Linked DNA regions of Homo sapiens. The protein of the gene in region 1 interacts with the protein of each later gene in a pairwise test. Each region holds a gene or a part of one and is shown in the gene's direction. Other genes may lie near its edges.

Region 1 (7,033 bases):
AAAAGAAAATGCTCAACAGCAGGCAGCACCAACACACAAGCAAGGCACAAGCACACTGAAATATTCATGAAACTGGATGTGGTAGGTAGAGTAATGCCCCCTCAAAGATGTTCAGTTCCTGTTCACTGGAACTGTAAGCAGGCTGCCTTACATGGGGAAGAATCAAGGAGGTAGAGTAATGCCCCCCGCCACCCCCAAAGATGTTCAGGTCCTGTTTGTTGGAACTGTAAGTAGGCTGCCTTACATGGGGAAGAATCAAGGTTGTTATTTAGCTGACTTTAAGAGATAGATTATCCTGGATTATCCCAGTGGGCTCATTGTAATATGGAAAAGGGGGGCAGAAGCAGAGGTCAGAGCAATATGATATGAGGACTAAGCCAACCATTGCTGGCTTTGAAGCAATAGGAAGGGGGCTACAAGCCAAGGAATGTGGGTGGCCTATAAAACTTGGAAAAGTCAAGGAAACCAATTATCTCCTAAGGCCTCTAGAAAGAAATGCAGTCCTGCTGACACCTTGATTTCAGCTCAGAGAAAACCATGTTGAACTTTTGACCTCCAGAATTATAAGATAATAAATTTGTATTGCTCAAGTCACTATGTTTGTCATAACTAGCAATAGCAGCAATAGAAAATGAATACACTGGTATTTAGAAGATTCGTCTGAAATTCCAAAAAGGAGTTTCCAAGTTCACCTACAATTCTTGGGGCAAAAAGTAAAGTGTAAAAGCAGTGACAAGACCCAAAATGCACACTGATGTGTTAGAACTGTAAGGCATATTACATACATCATCTTAGTTAATCTTTACAACAATCTTACAAGGGTGGATTATCGTTTCTAACCTGTAGATGACGATCTTTTTAAAAAGTAAAACAGATCATATCCTTTAACTAATTAAAATGCTTCAGGGGCTCCCCATCTCGCCTACCCTACACGAAAATCTCATCTCCTTATCCTCACCTGTAAAGCTCTACATCAGTCGCAGTCAAAGTGCAGATTGCTGATGAGCATCACCTGGGACCTTGTTAGAAACACAACACTCAGCCCCTACTACAGACTTTTTCAATTGTGATCTATTGGGACAGGGCTTGGGAATCTGTTTGAACTTGCACTTCAAGTGATTCTTATACATAGTAAAAAAATTTGAGAAGCACTACTCCACATGAAGTACACTTGCCTACCTCTCCAACCAAATCTGATACCACTCTCATCCTTGCTTGTGTAGCCACACTGGCCTTTTTTCATTCTCTAAACATGTTATGTTTGCTCCCATCTTGGGACTACTACATTATCTATTCTCTCTGCCTATTAGGTGCTTCCCCTAGAAATTAGTTTGTTGGCTAATGTCCTTAAATTAGTCTTAAGGTTTCCCTGATCGTGAGCTCGCTGCAGTCCAAAGAAAGAATGCCAATGGGACTGCCCCCCACGTTATTTCATTATAACTTATTCCTATGATTTGAGAAAATTAGAGATCCACCAGTCATGAATAGAAAGCTGGAGATGATAAGAAAATAGACACTAGTTTTTAACTATGTAGATTTAAGTTTTGCTACCAGTTTTAGCAATTGTAATCACAATGCTTTTTTTTTTTTTCCTCGAAGAATCTTAGCCTTGTTACCTTTGGAAAAGCTTTTCGTGTTTGTAAATACCATGATTTTTCCACCTCATGATCTTGAATGCACTGTTCATTTAAAGTTTTTGCGGAAGGGAAGATTTGAAAGGCAAGCAAATCTCAGCATATACTCTCTACATAAGCTAGATGTATGCTTAACCCATGTTAACTACAGATCCTTTGTGATGGATAAGTATTTATGCTTTTTCAATTCCTTAAATTTACCAGTTTTACAATAAGCTCTGTTGTATTTCACAAATCCTATGGCAACATCTTTAAGGTTGGCTGTTTTTCTCTTTTGTAAATTAGCTTCATAGATTATTTTTATAGTGAACGCATTAAAATAGTATTGAAGTTTAATTTTATTGAAAAACATTGCATTACTCAGAGGATCATTTGGCATTTTTTATCCTTCACAATCATAAGCCCCTAGTGTAACTAGTAAACACTAGATTGTTGGTGGTGTTATAATAGAAAAGTATTTCTCATATAGCACTTCAGGGTGGGCATTTCTGGTCAGTGGATGGCTTTCTTCCAACCCTCAGAGCTTCAGAGCCTTCTGCATCTAGCCAGCAAATGGGAAGAGTAGAGAAGGCTCACCTGTTTCTTAAGGCACAGACCTGGAAGTTACTTCACTTTTGCTCATATTCCCTTCATGAAAATATGTCGCAAGGCCACAGTTGGATGCAAGGTACATAGGAAAATGTCACTGGGTGGGCAGCCATTCCCAGTGACAAAATCACCCTGTGAAAGAGGAGTACAAATATTGGCAGGCAGCCAGCTGTCTCTAAAAACCTATGTAAATTATCTTAGTGCTGCATAATACTACAATACTGAATCAAATGTACGCTCAATCACAGCAAATACATCTCTCTTTCCTGATTACTGTATGTACTTTTTGCCCTTTTAATAGTGCCCTTATTATATATTCCCATAGTACTTAGTATTGCCTTATTTAGAAATCCTCATCATTTTTCTGATTATTTGTTCAACTACATTGTAAGCTTCTTAAGGGTAAGACCATAGTCACTTTGTTCACTGCATCACCAGTACCCATTCCCAGTAGAGTGCCTGACATAGTGCTTCGCATATGGTAGTCTTAAGAAATCATTTTGAACCAAAGAATGAATGAACTAAATTTCTATTGCAATACATTACCTCTTATGATTTGTCCTATGTTGTAAGCTACTTCCAATAATTTTTGGATTTGAGAGTAGACTGAATAACTTAAACAAAATTTAGGACTCTTTGTTCTTTGTATCTTTTCATAAAGGGCATGATGCCATTGTCACACTCCTGAAGCATTATAAGAGACCACAAGATGAATTGCCCTGTAATGAATATTCTCAGCCTGGAGGAGGTACCCCTTTTCTTATTCAGTTTTCATTATTGTATAATATATTGTGCCTAAAGGTAAACCTGTGTTTCTGTTACTATCATTCTTTCAGGGGTTAGGGAGGAGGGCATAGCCTATGTCAGATTAGATTTATTTTAAGTAACCTTATGTCTGGGAGAGGCTGAACATAAAGAAGCCTCCATTTCAGCTATTTTCTAACTCACCAATCTGCAGCTCCTCCAAGTTTAACATTTCCCAGACTGGATGTTTATGAGGCTTGTGCATGACTAGGAAGGCCTGGATAAGCTGAGAGCAGTCATTTTCCATTTCAGTAATCTATTACTGAATACTCATATCCAGAGACAAATTAAATCTGCTAGAGTCTGCTACAACTTGGATTTTCTAAAAAATCTTTTTATGCACTTTCTAAATAAACACTTGCAGTACAATTTCAGTATCCAGAGAAAGATTTGGGCCTGAAGCGATAGTTTTACTTCGTTTCGTCACCTGCTTATTTTTATAATGTTGAACTTTTATGTAGAAAAAAATGATCGCTACTTTCAACTCTATTATATAATTTAATTTCTAGATGGCTCCTATGTGTCTGTTCCATCACCCTTGGGGAAGATTAAAAGCATGACAAAAGGTACCTATAATCTGGGACAATTGTTATATTTAATTACTAAGGATAACTATTGCTTCAAATGTAATTTTCAATTTTGTTTTACATATTACAAATGATGACTATTTTACAAGCACAACAAATATTATTGACAGACCGTTCTTTTCATAATTAACCTTACCCTTTATCTCCTTTCAGTGCATAAAGATATAATAACAGTGAAAATTTCACATAACTATTAAAGAAAAATCAAATTCTCACTGGACTGTTTAGATGTTTCTGTTTTTTATAAAAATGAATTATAAATATTAATATTTCTTTAAGGAGAATTGGGACTAGAAAACATATGTGAAAAAATATATATTATTTTTCAAAATATCCCCAATAAGTAATACTTTGGGACCATTTTTGAATGTATGCTTCACACAGAAATGAATAACATTGGACCAGGAAAGTAAAAACTTTGATTCAAATGTAAATATATATTTAACTATTTGGAATTTAAATTCCAAATAGTTTCCTTAGAATGTAGAATGAGTGTTTCCTTAGAATGATTCATACGCTTATTTCCTGTCATTTAATTGGCATCCCTTTGAGGTTAGTTTATGGATATTTGGCTAAGCCTATTGGAATAGACTGAAGAGAGTTACCAGATCAGAACCTTTATCATAATGTGATACGGACTGGACTCCAGGGTTGCCATGTCATGCAGGAATAGATCAGGAATAGACCTTCAGCCCTGCTAACAAGGAGTGAGTAGATCAGGAATAGACCCTTAGCGCTGGTAACCAGATCAGGAATAGACCCTTAGCCCTGGTAACCAGATCAGGAATAGACCCTTAGCCCTGGTAACAAGGAGTGAGTAATCAAGACATAGAACTAACATGATTTTAATGCAGGGGGGTAGGGATCATTTGGGTTAAGGTTTTAGCATCTTTAAGTAGTCAATTACAGTTGGAAAATTAAAAATTAAATGTTATTAGGAAATTATGTTTTTAGTTAAATATATATATGCACATGTATACACATCCATGTGTGTGGTTTTTACCTTAAAAAATAAAATGACAATTTCTCTTTGCAGAGAAGGCAGATATTCTCCTCCTAAGAGCTGGATTGCCTTCACATTTCCATCTTCAGCTCTCAGAAATTGAGTTCCATGAGATTATTGGCTCAGGTAACCTAAAATAAATAAATAAATAAAGGTCCGGTTTAGTTGAATGAGCTTAAGTTAATATGTGTTTATTTATTTATTTTAAACAATTGTAGGTTCTTTTGGGAAAGTATATAAAGGACGATGCAGAAATAAAATAGTGGCTATAAAACGGTAAGCAAGCAAATGAAAAAATTTAACATCCAGGTGGAATTGTGACCTTTGAGAAGCATGTGCATGGCAAGCCCCTTGTTTGGATCCATCTGTTTACTGAAGATTTTCTGTTGCTGCCATTTCCAGTTATCGAGCCAATACCTACTGCTCCAAGTCAGATGTGGATATGTTTTGCCGAGAGGTGTCCATTCTCTGCCAGCTCAATCATCCCTGCGTAATTCAGTTTGTGGGTGCTTGCTTGAATGATCCCAGCCAGTTTGCCATTGTCACTCAATACATATCAGGGGGTTCTCTGTTCTCCCTCCTTCATGAGCAGAAGAGGTATGGGTCTTTTGTTCTGATTTATCCTTGGACATTCCGTAGAAACTACTCTTGCAATACTTCAGAGGGTTTCCCATTGGATGAGCCTTCACCTTTTGAAATCTGAGTGCTGCTAGCAAGTGTGTCATTTTTAATATCGCTAATAATTTATGCCTAATAACTGTGTTTCAATGAATAGAAATACTTTATGCTTTCTTAGCAGAAATTCAGTTGAAGATAACAAATTTAAGGAATTTAAATTGGAAACTGGAGCTTAAAATAATTAGGCTAAATTTGAAATACTGATAAAGAAGATATATGTAAGCTCAGAATAAAATAAACTTTTAAAAAAGTGATCTTGAACAAATCCAATGTGAATTCACTTTCTGAGTTTATGCATATAGTAATTAGAATGTAGTTTCATACAGTGATTAAAATAGATTTCATTTTACAATATTACAAAGAAATTAAGTATAGTATTATAAATAAATTATAAAACCAAGTATAATATCTTAAACAAGAGATGCTGTATATCTTAATTGATTCATAATTAAGCATTTTCTGATGTAGGAAAGCTATTCAGATTTGTTGAATTTCTAGCTTAACCTTCAAGAAACAAAAAATGGTTAAGATGATATAAAATAACAACTCTTACACATCATTTGCTTTTTTGATATTCGTTTTGACCATTTCATCTCTGTTAAATCTATTTTTAAATTCTAGGATTCTTGATTTGCAGTCTAAATTAATTATTGCAGTAGATGTTGCCAAAGGCATGGAGTACCTTCACAACCTGACACAGCCAATTATACATCGTGACTTGAACAGGTATTTTTTTCCTAAATAATGAACTCAGAAGGGTATGACTAACTGGGAGTTTAAGACAGATTTCAGTGAAGATACATTTTAGACTTATTGCAGATCAGGGTACTCTGTGGTTAAGAGGACAGGCTACCATAAGCTTAGGCGATAGAAAGTTTTGTCATTGTCTTTTAAGGAGTAGAAAGCTGTATAACTGCTTCTCAGGGATCTTTTAAATCTATGAAGAATATTCACAAATATAGTAATATCTGTAAGATGCACCAGCTAACTAGTTCCCAGGTCAGTAAGGTCACATCAAGCAGTGAGCTAAATGGCTATTAAAAAAATGATATGTCTCCTATAAAGTGAAGTGTTGGAGTAGCTCCTGATATAAAATTATCTGAAACGTACTTTGTGCTACCGTAAATTCAGCTTAACCACAACAGCTTATTTACCTAGTTATCAGGTAAAGAGGATTTCATGTGAAACAAATATAAAATCAGAGTGTTCCAGTGGTGGAACCCCAAGTGACCTCAAAACTTTTCCTAAATAGTGAAAACTTTCTCTGAGTAAAGTCTTATAGGAAAGGCCAATATACAAAATGGAGCAGTGTTGGGTGAAGGTAAAGTGGGGAGGAGAAAACTCTATTTACTTCCCATTTCCCACTGCTAAGGAGAGAGATTCCTGCACCACCTCTGTGGAAGCCCAAAGGTGCTGTAGAGAATAGTTGGACAAACACTGATTTAGTTTATGAAGCAAGTCAGATTATTCCACATCAATCACTTTCATTTTATGATAGTCAATAAGATTCAAATAGATTGTGTATATAGTCCTTTATAGAAGCTTTACAGTTCTGAAGCTAGTAAATATTGATTACTCTAGTCAGTCATTTGGTCAACAACTATGTTTGAACATATATGTTTAAAGACTATTTTCAGCACAGTAGAGCTTACAAAGTGGGACGTTCATAGACTACATTCAGGGAGTTTTCACACTCTATGTAGAGGAGAAAAATATTTACCTAAATGTATTTGAGGTAT
Region 2 (7,033 bases), on another chromosome or scaffold:
AGAGTGTGTTCTGAGGATAATTAATAGTTTCAGGGAAAGAATACTAAAAATGAATTCCCTATAATGGGATCCAGTATTTCATAGTAAATATTGTGTGGGTGTGTATGTGGGAGGAAATCTGGAAGCTTTATTTCTAAAGTAAAACTTTAATATTATAAAAATAAGTATTTTATAATTGCACCTGTGCATTAATTATTTACATAAACAAAAATGGAATCAGACGTTGATTGGTTTTTGACAGCATAATTTCCCCCAATAAATAGTATAATAAAATTATAGATGTGCTCATTTCATGTTTGACTTTCACTGTGCCATTATAATAGAGGCCATTTTTAAAAGATTAATAATGACCTCAGTTTTTCTTAAAGCCGCTCAGATGACAAATTATTCTCTTTGTATCACGTATTATGCCATCATCCTGGCCACTTGTTAGTTGGTCTGACCCTTATTTGTTCACAGACTCACTTGTAACTCAGGCAATTCTCCAGTTTCTTTCATTGAGTTGAGCTTCTGTATAGTTGGCAAGTTTTCCAGTTCATCTTTGCATTGGGTCTGCAGTGTGCTATCTGAAGTATCAGACGGTCAGTAAGAGAAACCAGCTGGCAGTGAGCAGAAAGATAGGTGTAAAGCAGACAGGGTCTTGAGTGGGAACTCTGTTTATGAAGGGTCAGTTCTTTAGAAATCATTTTCATGTTTAATCACTTTTGCTTTGCTGCTAAGCTTTGTGACTGATCATGAGACCTGATAACACAGATAGTGAGGACTCCACCCCATAATATATTTCATCATCATTCCAGCAACTGTCTTTAATAGGTTCTTTTAAGTATATTTGAACATTAAACAAGTTAAAATCAAATTATATATTGATATTCTTGAAGGCCCTGAGCAAAACATCGATAAGAAATTAGGTGAGTTAGGAGAGTATCATAGCCTCGTGTCTGCACTAGAAACCAGCCAGCAGGAATTTTGCATATACCTGTCAATTAATGGCAAGATTAAATATTAGTGAACCATTTCTGTGATGGACTTCATTTGATTTTAAATATTGCTCTGGAGAATGTTAAACTGAAACCGTTTCCAGATGACTATGAAGATTAGTGCTCAAAGCATCATTTACATGATGCCCTTCCCTTATAGTGATCATTTCATTCACTCTATTTCCTAAAGGCTGCCCTTGGAGCTGGCTTCTCTGACAAGACTCCTGCTCACACTGTCACCATGGCTTGTATCTCTGCCAACCAAGCCATGACCACAGGTATGTTTAAATGGAAACAGACAGTACATGTTAATTATTCTCCTTTGTCTTTTACTTGATTATAAAAATGTACTTTTTTTTTTTTTTTTTTTTTTAACACAGAACCTCACTCTGTCACTCAGGCTGGAGTGCAGTGGTACCATCATAGCTCACTGCAGGCTCAAACTCTTGAGCTCAAGAGATCATCCTGCCTTAGGATCCCAAGTAGCTGGGTCTACAGGTGCTCCACCACACCCAGCTAATTTTTAAATTTTTTGTGGAGACGGGATCTCGCCATGTTGCCCAGGCTGGTCTTAAACCTCTGGCCTCAAGTGATCCTTCTACCTCAGCCTCCAAAGTGCTGGGATTACAGGCGTGAGCCACCATGCTCATCCCAAAAAGTACTCTTAACAGAAGTAAAAGATTAGCACAGATCTCTATACTTGTGTTTTTTAAAAAGTAAGGTCAGGTTTAAAATTTGGGGGTTCTAACCGTAGTTAACCTCTTTTTTTGCTCTCCATACCTGAGGAACATTACCATTGGCGTGGTTCCTCTGTGAATAATGTGGCTGGCTGCAGCAGGGATTATCAACTGGAGGAGTGTATCTCTAGGAAGGTACTTCAGCATCTGAGGCATGAGTAAATAGTTTACAACCTGCCAGGCTTTCAACCTAGGTGCTTCAGATATGATATTTTCCCACAAAGATATGGTCTTCCTTCCTTCACCACTACCATACTTGTAAATCATTGCTTTAGATGGCACAGCTCTTTCCTTCACTTTCTCCTTACATCCTTGTCATTTTTATAAATCACTGAAAACCCCACTAACAAACTTTAGCAAAACTGTGGGATATTTTGTAGCATCAGCTCTTAGTGTGAGGAGGCAAGGAAGCCTGAAAGATTTAGTAATCATGTGCTCATCTAGTAACATCAAGGCCCAGGTGGGCACCCCACCTCATGTGTGGCGGGGAATGATGCCCGTGACTGGGGGCGTTCGCCACTCTAGGCAGCATGTGACCAACTCCTGGTTAGAGAAACAGAATACTGGCCAGTGGCCATAAGGAGAGAGGGGGCCTGCCTTACGTTTCAACAGCTGTAATTTCTCTGCTTTGCAGCAGAAGTTAACATTCTCTTTATAGGATAAAAAATCTTTATTAAAACTAAAGCTGGGAGCATATAAATATGCAAGATGTTCTGGTTTGGAATATGATTTGTTCAAGAGTTGGTCCAATGGATATTCCTAGAAGTTGACGTCCATATGGCAGGAATGAAACTTGTTTTTCTCTAACGTGTTGAATGTGTTTTTAGTCATTTAAGAAAATTACCTTAATTCTTCTGAAAAGTTGAAAACTTTAATTACAGATGTTGTACAAAGCTGATAACTGTCATTCAGCTTTTTAATCAAGAAGCTTAAATTGGAATGGTATGTTATTTTCTGTAAAAGATATTCATGAAGTATAACCTGTGCCCTGTAGGTGTTGGCTTGATTGCTTCTGGCCAGTGTGATGTGATCGTGGCAGGTGGTGTTGAGTTGATGTCCGATGTCCCTATTCGTCACTCAAGGAAAATGAGAAAACTGATGCTTGATCTCAATAAGGCCAAATCTATGGGCCAGCGACTGTCTTTAATCTCTAAATTCCGATTTAATTTCCTAGCACCTGAGGTAAGGCTTGTGTTTGCAGGGCATCCCACTGCAGAGATTTAGAATTAGGTATGGCAGTGTGGACTCTGCTATGCTGTAATAGGTGTAGATTCTGTAGTTACAGGAAAGGGTTAATTACTTGCTCAAGATGGAAAAAAAAGATAGTGGTTAGAAAACTTTAATTTGTGAGCCCTCTTTAGAGATCCTCTTTAGAGATCCTCTGCTTGTCTTGGACTTGATTGATTAATGGTAGACAAATAGATTTTAACTTTTCCAAATAACACAGAACAATCCTAGGTGTTAGCATAACACCGGTTAACAGTGTACCTGCTCCTTGGATATCTCCTTTCCCAGCTCCCTGCGGTTTCTGAGTTCTCCACCAGTGAGACCATGGGCCACTCTGCAGACCGACTGGCCGCTGCCTTTGCTGTTTCTCGGCTGGAACAGGATGAATATGCACTGCGCTCTCACAGTCTAGCCAAGAAGGCACAGGATGAAGGACTCCTTTCTGATGTGGTACCCTTCAAAGTACCAGGTGAAATGAAATGCTTCATGACACTTATTAGGGAGTTCTGAATTGCTCCTAAAACTCAAAAACATCCCGAGTGATTTTTCCATAAGTATGTTGGTTCTGTTTCCAAAGTATTCAGCCTTTATTCTTAAATATGGATGCAAATTTTGATTTATGTTGTAACAATAGGTTAACATTTTTTAATGTTTCTATAAGAGTGTCCTTTTAAGATCTGAGCACTAATCTCAGCACTTTGGGAGGCTGAGGCAGGAGGATCGCTTGAGGCCAGGAGTTCAAGACCAGCCTGGTCAACAGCGTGAGACTTCATCTCTAATTAAAAAAAAAAAAAAGAAAAACAGAGTCTCCTTTTAGATCTTGCTGATATATTTTAGTTCTTACATACATGCCTGTTTTTAAAATTCCTGAATCGTCTGACTTCTGTATAGAATAGCCAACTGTGAATGAATGTCTTAAGAAAATAGGGTGTCCTATTTTTAGTAAAGCATTTAGATGATTTCCCAATTGTCTTTTAAGACTTTAGTTTAAAATTTGATAATATGATAATTATAAAACACTTTCCTTCTAGTGAATAGGTAAGGTTTATATTTCATTTGTTTTTGTAATTTTTAAAGCATATTTCTGTGGAGAAGATATATAAGGCTTGTGGTTCCATAGAGTTAAAAAAATTCATTTTTTTAATAGGAAAAGATACAGTTACCAAAGATAATGGCATCCGTCCTTCCTCACTGGAGCAGATGGCCAAACTAAAACCTGCATTCATCAAGCCCTACGGCACAGTGACAGCTGCAAATTCTTCTTTCTTGGTAACTGTCAATGTTATTTGTATTTAGTAGTGACTTTTCTATTTCTGTACTCTCTGTAGAAAAGCCTAATATAACTTTTTGTGTGTGTTATGAATAGAGGGTTAAAAATATAGTTATTCATTTTAATGTGAAAGTGGAGTCATTAAAAAAAAAATAGAATCACGGTTTTAAGGCCCGAGAAGTCACCTAATCCAGCCACCATTCTGCCACAAAAGCTCTTCCTTTCAGGCACTTAACCAGTCAAAAACTTCTATTGCTTATGGTGGGCCCTGGAAATGAAAAGAATAGACAATTGCAATATAGTGAGATGCTGTGATGGCTGTAAGGCTTAGGTCGAACCCCTGACCCAGATGGGGGGACAGTCAGAGAGTCTTCTTGGAAGAGGTAACACTTGAGCAGCAAATCTTGAAGGAAGAGTAAAAGCCAACTCAGGAAGGATTTTAAAAGGCATTTCAGGCCGGGTGCGGTGGCTCACGCCTGTAATCCCAGCACTTTGGGAGGTTGAGGCAGGCAGATCACCTGAGGTCAGGAGTTCGAGACCAGCCTGAGCAACATGGAGAAACCCCGTCTCTACTAAAAATACAAAATTAGCCAGATGTGGTGGCACATGCCTGTTAATCCCGGCTACTCGGGAGGCTGAGGCAAGAGAATTGCTTGAACCCTGGAGGCGTGGAGGTTGCGGTGAGCCAAGATCGCACCATTGCACTCCAGCCTGCACAAGAGCGAAACTCCCATCTCAAAAAAAAAAAAAAAAAAAAAAAAAAAAGGCATTTTGGACAAAGGGAATAGCAAATGCAAAATCAAGGAAGTATGAGAGCAAGGGGTTCTTTGGGGAAAAGTTAGGTTGGAGCATAAGGTATGAACTGGGAAGTCGCAGAAGACAAGGAAAAGCAGGCAGAAAGAGTAACAGGATACCTCTTCCAGCCCTGATTGTTAGAAAACTGCTTTACACTGACCCCAATATTATTTTCCTGTAAGCATCATGGAACAAATCTACCACTGTTTGTTTTGTGTTTTTTTTTTAACTTATCAACATGTAGCTTCATATCCTTCCATGCTTTTCTGACTCCTCAATTAAACATCTTTATTGATTCTGCTGCTGCTTGTAAGATGTGATTTCTCTTCTCTTACCACCTTGGGTATAGTCTTCTGGATATAGGCCATCTGGTCAGAGTTTCTCTTACAATGTAACTCTCCTACCTGGCCATAAAGTCTTGAAAACATACGCAGATGTTTGACATATTTGCCCATGGTAAATGACTAATTAATGCCTGCTCTTGATAGGCTAGGGGAGTGGAATCTGGAGTAGTTCCAACAGGATGGAACACCACCCTGTTAAGCCCAGGTGGTGAAGAGCTGGTTAGGTTGGTCATTTGCAAAACCGAATTGGATGATAGAGCCATGTGGCATGGACTACACTTGCCAGATCTGAATCCTTTTGATTATTTCCAGGGTATGCTAAAGGTCCAGGTTTATTTAGTGAGAATCAGAGACACAAATCATCAGAGGTGACACATCACAATACATGGATTTTGGGGACTGCATTAGTGCCCCACATTCATTGCAATTTTGCACAATGGCACATTGAACCTGTTATTAATGTAATGTCTGTAAACCATTTATTCCATATGGTCACCTATGTCTCCAGACTTTATGGACACCCTATTGGTGGCTACACAGTCTCTTCAGGGTTGCCGAGTTATAAAAATACGACAGAATGTGGTAGAACTTATTTTGATTTTACAAATTATGAAGAATAGTTTCCTTTTCTTTGGAATTCTGAAGTTTTTGGGGGAGCTTTTCTTCTTTGAAGTATGGTAAAGGACGTTTTTTCAGTAGTACTTCTTTGTCCTCCAGCTTCTCGGTTGTCATTTGGGAAGAAATGTATGGGGTGTATCCAAAGAGGGAAGATTGTGGTTCTAATGTCCTCAGCTGGTTCTCCCATTGGTTTGCTCGTTACAGAATATATAAGTAGAATAAAATGACCTGTAAGCCACGGGCAGAAAGCAGCTGAGAGCCCAGAAAATGTAAAAATAAATAAATAAGAGATATGTTTATTTTGGTTCATATTTTGTGCCACAAGCTAAAAACTTTGGCTTAAATAAGTGTTTAGTGTTTATTATGAGCAGTTCTTTCTTTTTTTTTTTTTTTTTTTTTGAGACAGAGTCTGGCTTTGTCACCCAGGCTGGAATGCAGTGGCACGATCTCAGCTCACTGCAACCTCCGCCTCCCAGGTTCAAGCAATTCTCCTGCCTCAGCCTCAGCCTCCCAAGTAGCTGGGACTACAGGTGTGTGCCACCACACCTGGCTAAGTTTTTCTATTTTTAGTAGAGATGGGGTTTCACCGCGTTAGCCAGGATGGTCTCAATCACCTGCCTCATGATCTGCCCGCCTCAGCCTCCCAAAGTGCTGGGATTACAGGCATACAGGCATGAGCCACCACGCTTGGCCATGAGCATTTATTTCTAAAGTTACCTCTTCTGTTGATTCATTTTGATTATTATGATACTTTTGAACAGCCTTCTCTACCCTCATCCTCCAAAAATGAGTCAGCGTGTGTATGTTTGAATTATGATTTAATGATGGATACAGTGAAGTAAGTGTTGTTATATAGAATCACTGTATAAGTCTAATGAGTTAATAGATTCAGGTACAGATATATAAGATGGCTGGAGAAAGACCTCCAGACAGGCTGAAGAATTTTAACATTGTGCTGGTTAACATTTCAGACTGATGGTGCATCTGCAATGTTAATCATGGCGGAGGAAAAGGCTCTGGCCATGGGTTATAAGCCGAAGGCATATTTGAGGTAAAGTAAATGTT
Region 3 (5,357 bases), about 43 Mb from region 1:
TTTTTTGAGGTGGAATCTCACTCTGTTGGCTAGGCTGGAGTGCAGTGGCACAATCTCGACTCACTGCAACCTCCACCTCCTAGGTTCAAGCAATTCTCAGCCTCAGCCTCCTGAGTAGCTGGGATTACAGGCACATACCACCACATCTGGCTAATTTTTTGTATTTTTAGTAGAGACGGGTTTCACCATATTGGCCAGGCTGGTCTTAAACTCCTGGCCTCATGTGATCCGCCTGCCTTGGCCTCCCAAAGTGTGATTACAGGCGTGAGCCACCACACTTGGCCCAATAGTAGCTTATTCTAATCCCAGCTCTGCCACTGACTTGCTATGGCACTGCTGTTCCTTAAGTATCTCTCATCTAATGGGATCAGTTATCTGTGTTCACCAAACAGAACTAAGCGCAAGACTGAATTTTAAAATTCCCATGCAAAGGCTTTGAAAGATACAGTCCTCCACTTCCCCATACCCAGGCCTGAGAGTTATTCATTGAGTTTCTTGTACACTGCTTCTCTACCCCAGCTCATATACTCATAACCTTCCCCCTACCCTCAGGTGTGGGTTTTGCTACCAGGCAGGTGGCCAGCATGACCAAGCCTACCACAATCATCGAAAAGAATGGGGACATTCTCACCCTAAAAACACACAGCACCTTCAAGAACACAGAGATCAGCTTTAAGTTGGGGGTGGAGTTCGATGAGACAACAGCAGATGACAGGAAGGTCAAGGTAAGTCAGGGAAACAGGGGTGGGGAATGGAGAGTGCTGAGACTCTAAAAGAGAATAGGCTGGTAGTCTTGGCTCCCTGGTATTGCACCCTGAGGGGCAGACTATCATGGGGAATTTAAATGAAACAAGATTCATAAAGCCTGTGTAGTGCTGGAATGCCACTGATGCTAAATACATGTCAGTTCTGTCCTCTTGTTTTCTTCCCTCCCTTCTTGGGATTCATCTATTGTCTGCCTCGGAATGGGCAGCACAGAGCCAGGATGTTCTTCTGACCTCAGTATCTACTCCAGCTCCAGCTGGGTGACCCTGTGCAAGGTATGCAGTAGCTCTAGGTTTCTTTCCCCTTCCATAGATGGCAGAGTTATGTGGCCATGGCTGTGACCTGAAGTGCTTTAGGAATGATGCCCAGAAGTCAGGGCCCTCCACTGAGTGAGGTCATTGTGACCTCCAGCAGCAAAAAAGGCAGCCAGGAACTAGAAGCACCTACTCAGATGCCGCTTCAACTTCTAACTCCCAGACATGGCCAATGACCCTGACAAACTATTTCCAGTGTTGCCAGCTGACAGGCAGGAAGAGCTATGTTCCGTGATAGGGCATTCACCTTGTCATGAATGTGTTTGCAGTGTCTTCCCACCAAGCCTTAGCCCCTCCTCCCAGGGTTCTATCACCCTGCAGTGGCTGTCTTGGCAGCTTGCCTCAGCCTTCCAGGCCAGGCATGGGAGCGAGAGAACTTAAGGGCTTTGACCTCTATAGGGTGTCCCTATAGCAGTGTTCTATCATGACACTATCATTCAGCCCCATCAGCTGTTTCCTCTTCCTCATAGCTGTCCCCAGAAAGAACAGGATCACACAGGTGGCTGGCAGCAGAGCTGGGGATGGTGCCCAAAGATGGCAGTCTACCTTGGATAAAGGTGGCTGCCCCACCACCTGCTCATACCTCCTTGGACTTGCCTACTTTCTCAAGGGGCAAGAACCCCAATTAAACACAATAGCCCTGTGGAATGCCTAGGGCAAAAATATCTACTCTGAGTAGGCAAAAAAAACTAGGGGAATGAGAACAAGGAGTAAGGTAAGGATAAAAAAGAGCACACTAAGAGACAGGCCTCATACCCCTTATCACCTAAACAATACACAGAACCTTCTCAGATTCTCCTACTGAACCACCTTGCTCATCAGGATCCCTTAGCCTGGCCTTGTGGCCCCCAAACTCCTAGGAAAGAGAGCTGGAAGAGCTGCCAAATGAGAACCAGCTGATGTATGTATGCTGGCAGCACCCAGAGCTGAGGAACCACTTCAAGGGCATCCAGTCACAGGACTTTGTGGTTGCTGCCCTCTTGTTGGCTAAAGAGGTCACATGATGTGGACCAAGAAAAGGTGTAGGAATACAGGGCAGGAAGTCTAATTATCCAATACTTCCTATCACTAAGGGTCTTTTAGACATTATGTGGACTAACCACAAGGCTGGATAAAGATTCTCAGGACTACTCCTCCTCCTCAGTCAGTCTTTCCCAGGGATAGACTAGTAAATCCCACCTGTATCTGAGGGGACCAGGCTACGGGAATCACCTAGAGTACAGATAAGTGTCTGTCTTGAAGGCTTGTGGTACTTCTCAGAGCCAGGCTCTCTGGCTCCACCATACTGCCTGCCTCTCCCTCCTTGCCTAATATCTGAAGGCCTCTTCCCCAGAAAGGCAGTAGTGGAGCAGAGGCTGGAGGTGAACTAGATGTCTTGCAGGGATAGCTGGGAGGCGGATTGCCTGAGCTCTTGTCCTCACACCATCACTAGTTTGGGTCAAAGGCTGTGTGCTCTGTGGCCCAGTGTCCAGACCCCACCCTGCCCCTCAATTCCTGACTAAGATCACAGCTCAGGCCTCTACCCTCTTTCCACAGTCCATTGTGACACTGGATGGAGGGAAACTTGTTCACCTGCAGAAATGGGACGGGCAAGAGACCACACTTGTGCGGGAGCTAATTGATGGAAAACTCATCCTGGTAAGATGGGCAACTTTGGAGCTATATCTGATTGGTTATTACTACTGCTCTTTCAGCCAAGCCTGTTCTAAAAAGCCAAGTCCTCCCCTGAGAGCTGTAGAAGCTGGGACAAGAGAGTGGTTGTGGGTCAGGGTGGTATCAGGTGGGAATTTTCTGTGTAGTGGCTTTGGACTCACACAGGCCGGAACTCAAATCTTACCTTATAGGCTACATGACTGTGGGCAAATCACCTTTTCCAAGTGCAACTGTAAAACGGGTATTAATAATACCAACCTTGTAGGGCTGCTGGGAAGCCTGTAAGAGACAGTGTATGCACAGCACAAAGCATCACTGATTGAGGAACACAGCAGGTGCTCCATGTCCTTTGTTTGCTCTTCCTGTGTTTCTACCTTGCCTCACCTCAGGAAGAAGTAGAAAACAGGGCCAAATCTGATCCCAGGCCCTCTAGGAGGGGCTCCCATTGCCTATCTCAGCATTCCCTTTCCTCTCCTCCCTAGGACTGCATTGTCACTTGCAGGGACAGGCTCGTGACTGGTGGGGACACTGAATGACAGTACAGTCCTTTCTTCCCCATTCTAGTCCTACCCCATTTTCATGCTTTCTATGTCTGGCCTACTGAAACTACTTGACTACTGCTTGGGTAGGAAGTACCACAGCCAGGCTGGCAGATCTGTTCAAGCTTGGGGACTTCACTTGGAGAATCTAGCCTTGACTGAATTCCCCCCAGACCCAGGGAGAGCAGCCAACTGTGGATTCTGCCTAACCACAGGGCCTCAGGTTTTCACCTAGGCATCTTCACTGCACACCTTCTTGGGTCAGCATAACCTGTTAACTGCATTCTTGTACTCATGTGGGACAGGGGTCCCCTTGAAGTTTGGAATGAGGTGCCTAGCTTTGGTGGGGATGTGATATGCAGGACCAAATTCTCAGTGGCAGCTGAACTATGGTGAGGCCATGGGTCTGGCTCTATGATGCCAGACCGGATAGTGGGAGGTACAGGGCTCTGGCCCTGGCACTACTCTAAGTTAGGGAAGGATTGGAGTTAGTAGCCAAACACAGTCCTTTCCTGAGTCTCTGGATATTTTTCCTATTTGTCAACTATATGCCAGGCACCATCTTAGACACTAAGGATGAAGGAAGCCAAATGGTATAAGGGAAGGAAAAACACTCAGGATCTTGACCAAATTACTTCCTCTCTAAAGGCTCGTTTTTTCCAAATCTCTAAAATAAGAATTACAATGCCTATCTTAAGGATTTGCTGTGCATATCAGAAAAAAAAAATTATGTATGTATACACACACACACACACACACACACACACACACACACATACATACATATAGCCGGCACATAGTAGGTACTCAAGTGACAATTATCAGGAGGAAGGGAGGGTAGAATGCTCGCAATGGTGTTCCTGGCTCCACCCCCCATCTCACTCTGTCTTTCCTTCCAGACACTCACCCACGGCACTGCAGTTTGCACTCGCACTTATGAGAAAGAGGCATGACCTGACTGCACTGTTGCTGACTACTACTCTGCCAATCGGCTACCCCTCGACTCAGCACCACATTGCCTCATTTCTTCCTCTGCATTTTGTACAAATCCACGAATTCTTCTGGGGTCAGGTGCCACTGACCGGGATCCAGTTCCAGTTCCCATGGTGTATGTGGTTTTTTTTTTTTTTTTTTAACTGCACTCATAGGGTGCTCTGAGGTCAATAAAGCAGAGCCAAGGCCACCCAGTTGCCTTTTTGCCTTTGGTAACATAACTCTGGGAGTCTTGGTTTATCCTGTGTGTCAGAGAGTGGGCAGAAATAACGGCCTGAAGGTTACTGAGGAAGAAGCACTGGATGGGAGACTGAAATGGACAGTCTCGGAGCCTGTTAATCAGCTGATCACCTTACACATTTAATAATAAAAGAGCTGTACCTACACGTTGCCTTTACACTGCCCCCCCTCCATGGTCAAATGACCTAGTTCAGTCAGTGATGGGGCTTCCCCAGGTTTGGCTATTGAACTGTCACTTCAGGCCCATCCTACACTGAAAGCTCTTGGGTCTGGCTGTTCTCTGTGAAATGCTGTAGTCTCTCCCTTTCCAGAATTCAGGTTCAGGGCACAGAACCCAGGCTTGTACCATGGTGGTGGGAGAAAATGACCACTGGCCAAGAGGACTGCTGACCTGTGCACCAGGCTAGTACTTATGACTACAAATTCTTACTGCTTCTCTAATCAACTCTGAGGGAAGAGGGCATCTGATCATTACAAAAGGGAGGGCTTATAAGTGATCTCCCAAGAAGGCAGTGATCTGCTAGTGCCTTTGGCTCTGTACCTCTGCTGGGCATCTCTCCAAGGTCTAAGGTAACATATTAAATGTTTTTGTCAGCTAATGCAGGCTCAGTGACTTTAAGTCTGTAAGTTACCCAGGAAGAAGGATTATAGGAAAAATAACTCAGTAAGTTTAAAACCAAACACATTTCCATTTAGTGACAGGAATTTAAGCAAGGACCTGAAGTAGAATCAACTGATTCACACAGTAGTAAATACAAAGTAGAACAATGATCTTGGCTTCGCTGTCTGGTTCAGTGGTCTGCTGGAATGCAATACACAAGTTAAGTCACACTGCAGACTGTTTTCTAGCTGT

Evidence for each region. Proteins that work in one complex are often made in the same cells at the same time.
Region 2: the proteins of TNNI3K (region 1) and HADHB interact in a two-hybrid assay, tested with the Homo sapiens proteins (one study listed by BioGRID).
Region 3: the proteins of TNNI3K (region 1) and FABP3 interact in a two-hybrid assay, tested with the Homo sapiens proteins (one study listed by BioGRID).

What each region holds. Positions count from the first base shown.
Region 1 is NC_000001.11:74,364,373-74,371,405, forward strand, and holds part of TNNI3K (serine/threonine-protein kinase TNNI3K), read left to right. Parts: intron 1-2,883; coding exon 2,884-2,970; intron 2,971-3,535; coding exon 3,536-3,592; intron 3,593-4,649; coding exon 4,650-4,742; intron 4,743-4,834; coding exon 4,835-4,892; intron 4,893-5,018; coding exon 5,019-5,213; intron 5,214-5,915; coding exon 5,916-6,020; intron 6,021-7,033. Other genes in the region: FPGT-TNNI3K fusion protein, read left to right, coding at 2,884-2,970, 3,536-3,592, 4,650-4,742, 4,835-4,892, 5,019-5,213, 5,916-6,020. UniProt on the Homo sapiens protein: May play a role in cardiac physiology.
Region 2 is NC_000002.12:26,275,906-26,282,938, forward strand, and holds part of HADHB (trifunctional enzyme subunit beta, mitochondrial isoform 1 precursor), read left to right. Parts: intron 1-1,167; coding exon 1,168-1,255; intron 1,256-2,708; coding exon 2,709-2,896; intron 2,897-3,229; coding exon 3,230-3,410; intron 3,411-4,088; coding exon 4,089-4,210; intron 4,211-6,939; coding exon 6,940-7,019; intron 7,020-7,033. UniProt on the Homo sapiens protein: Mitochondrial trifunctional enzyme catalyzes the last three of the four reactions of the mitochondrial beta-oxidation pathway.
Region 3 is NC_000001.11:31,364,753-31,370,109, reverse strand, and holds the end of FABP3 (fatty acid-binding protein, heart), read left to right. Parts: intron 1-519; coding exon of another isoform or gene 520-552; coding exon 553-725; intron 726-2,615; coding exon 2,616-2,717; intron 2,718-4,170; coding exon 4,171-4,224; 3' UTR 4,225-4,857; downstream 4,858-5,357. UniProt on the Homo sapiens protein: FABPs are thought to play a role in the intracellular transport of long-chain fatty acids and their acyl-CoA esters.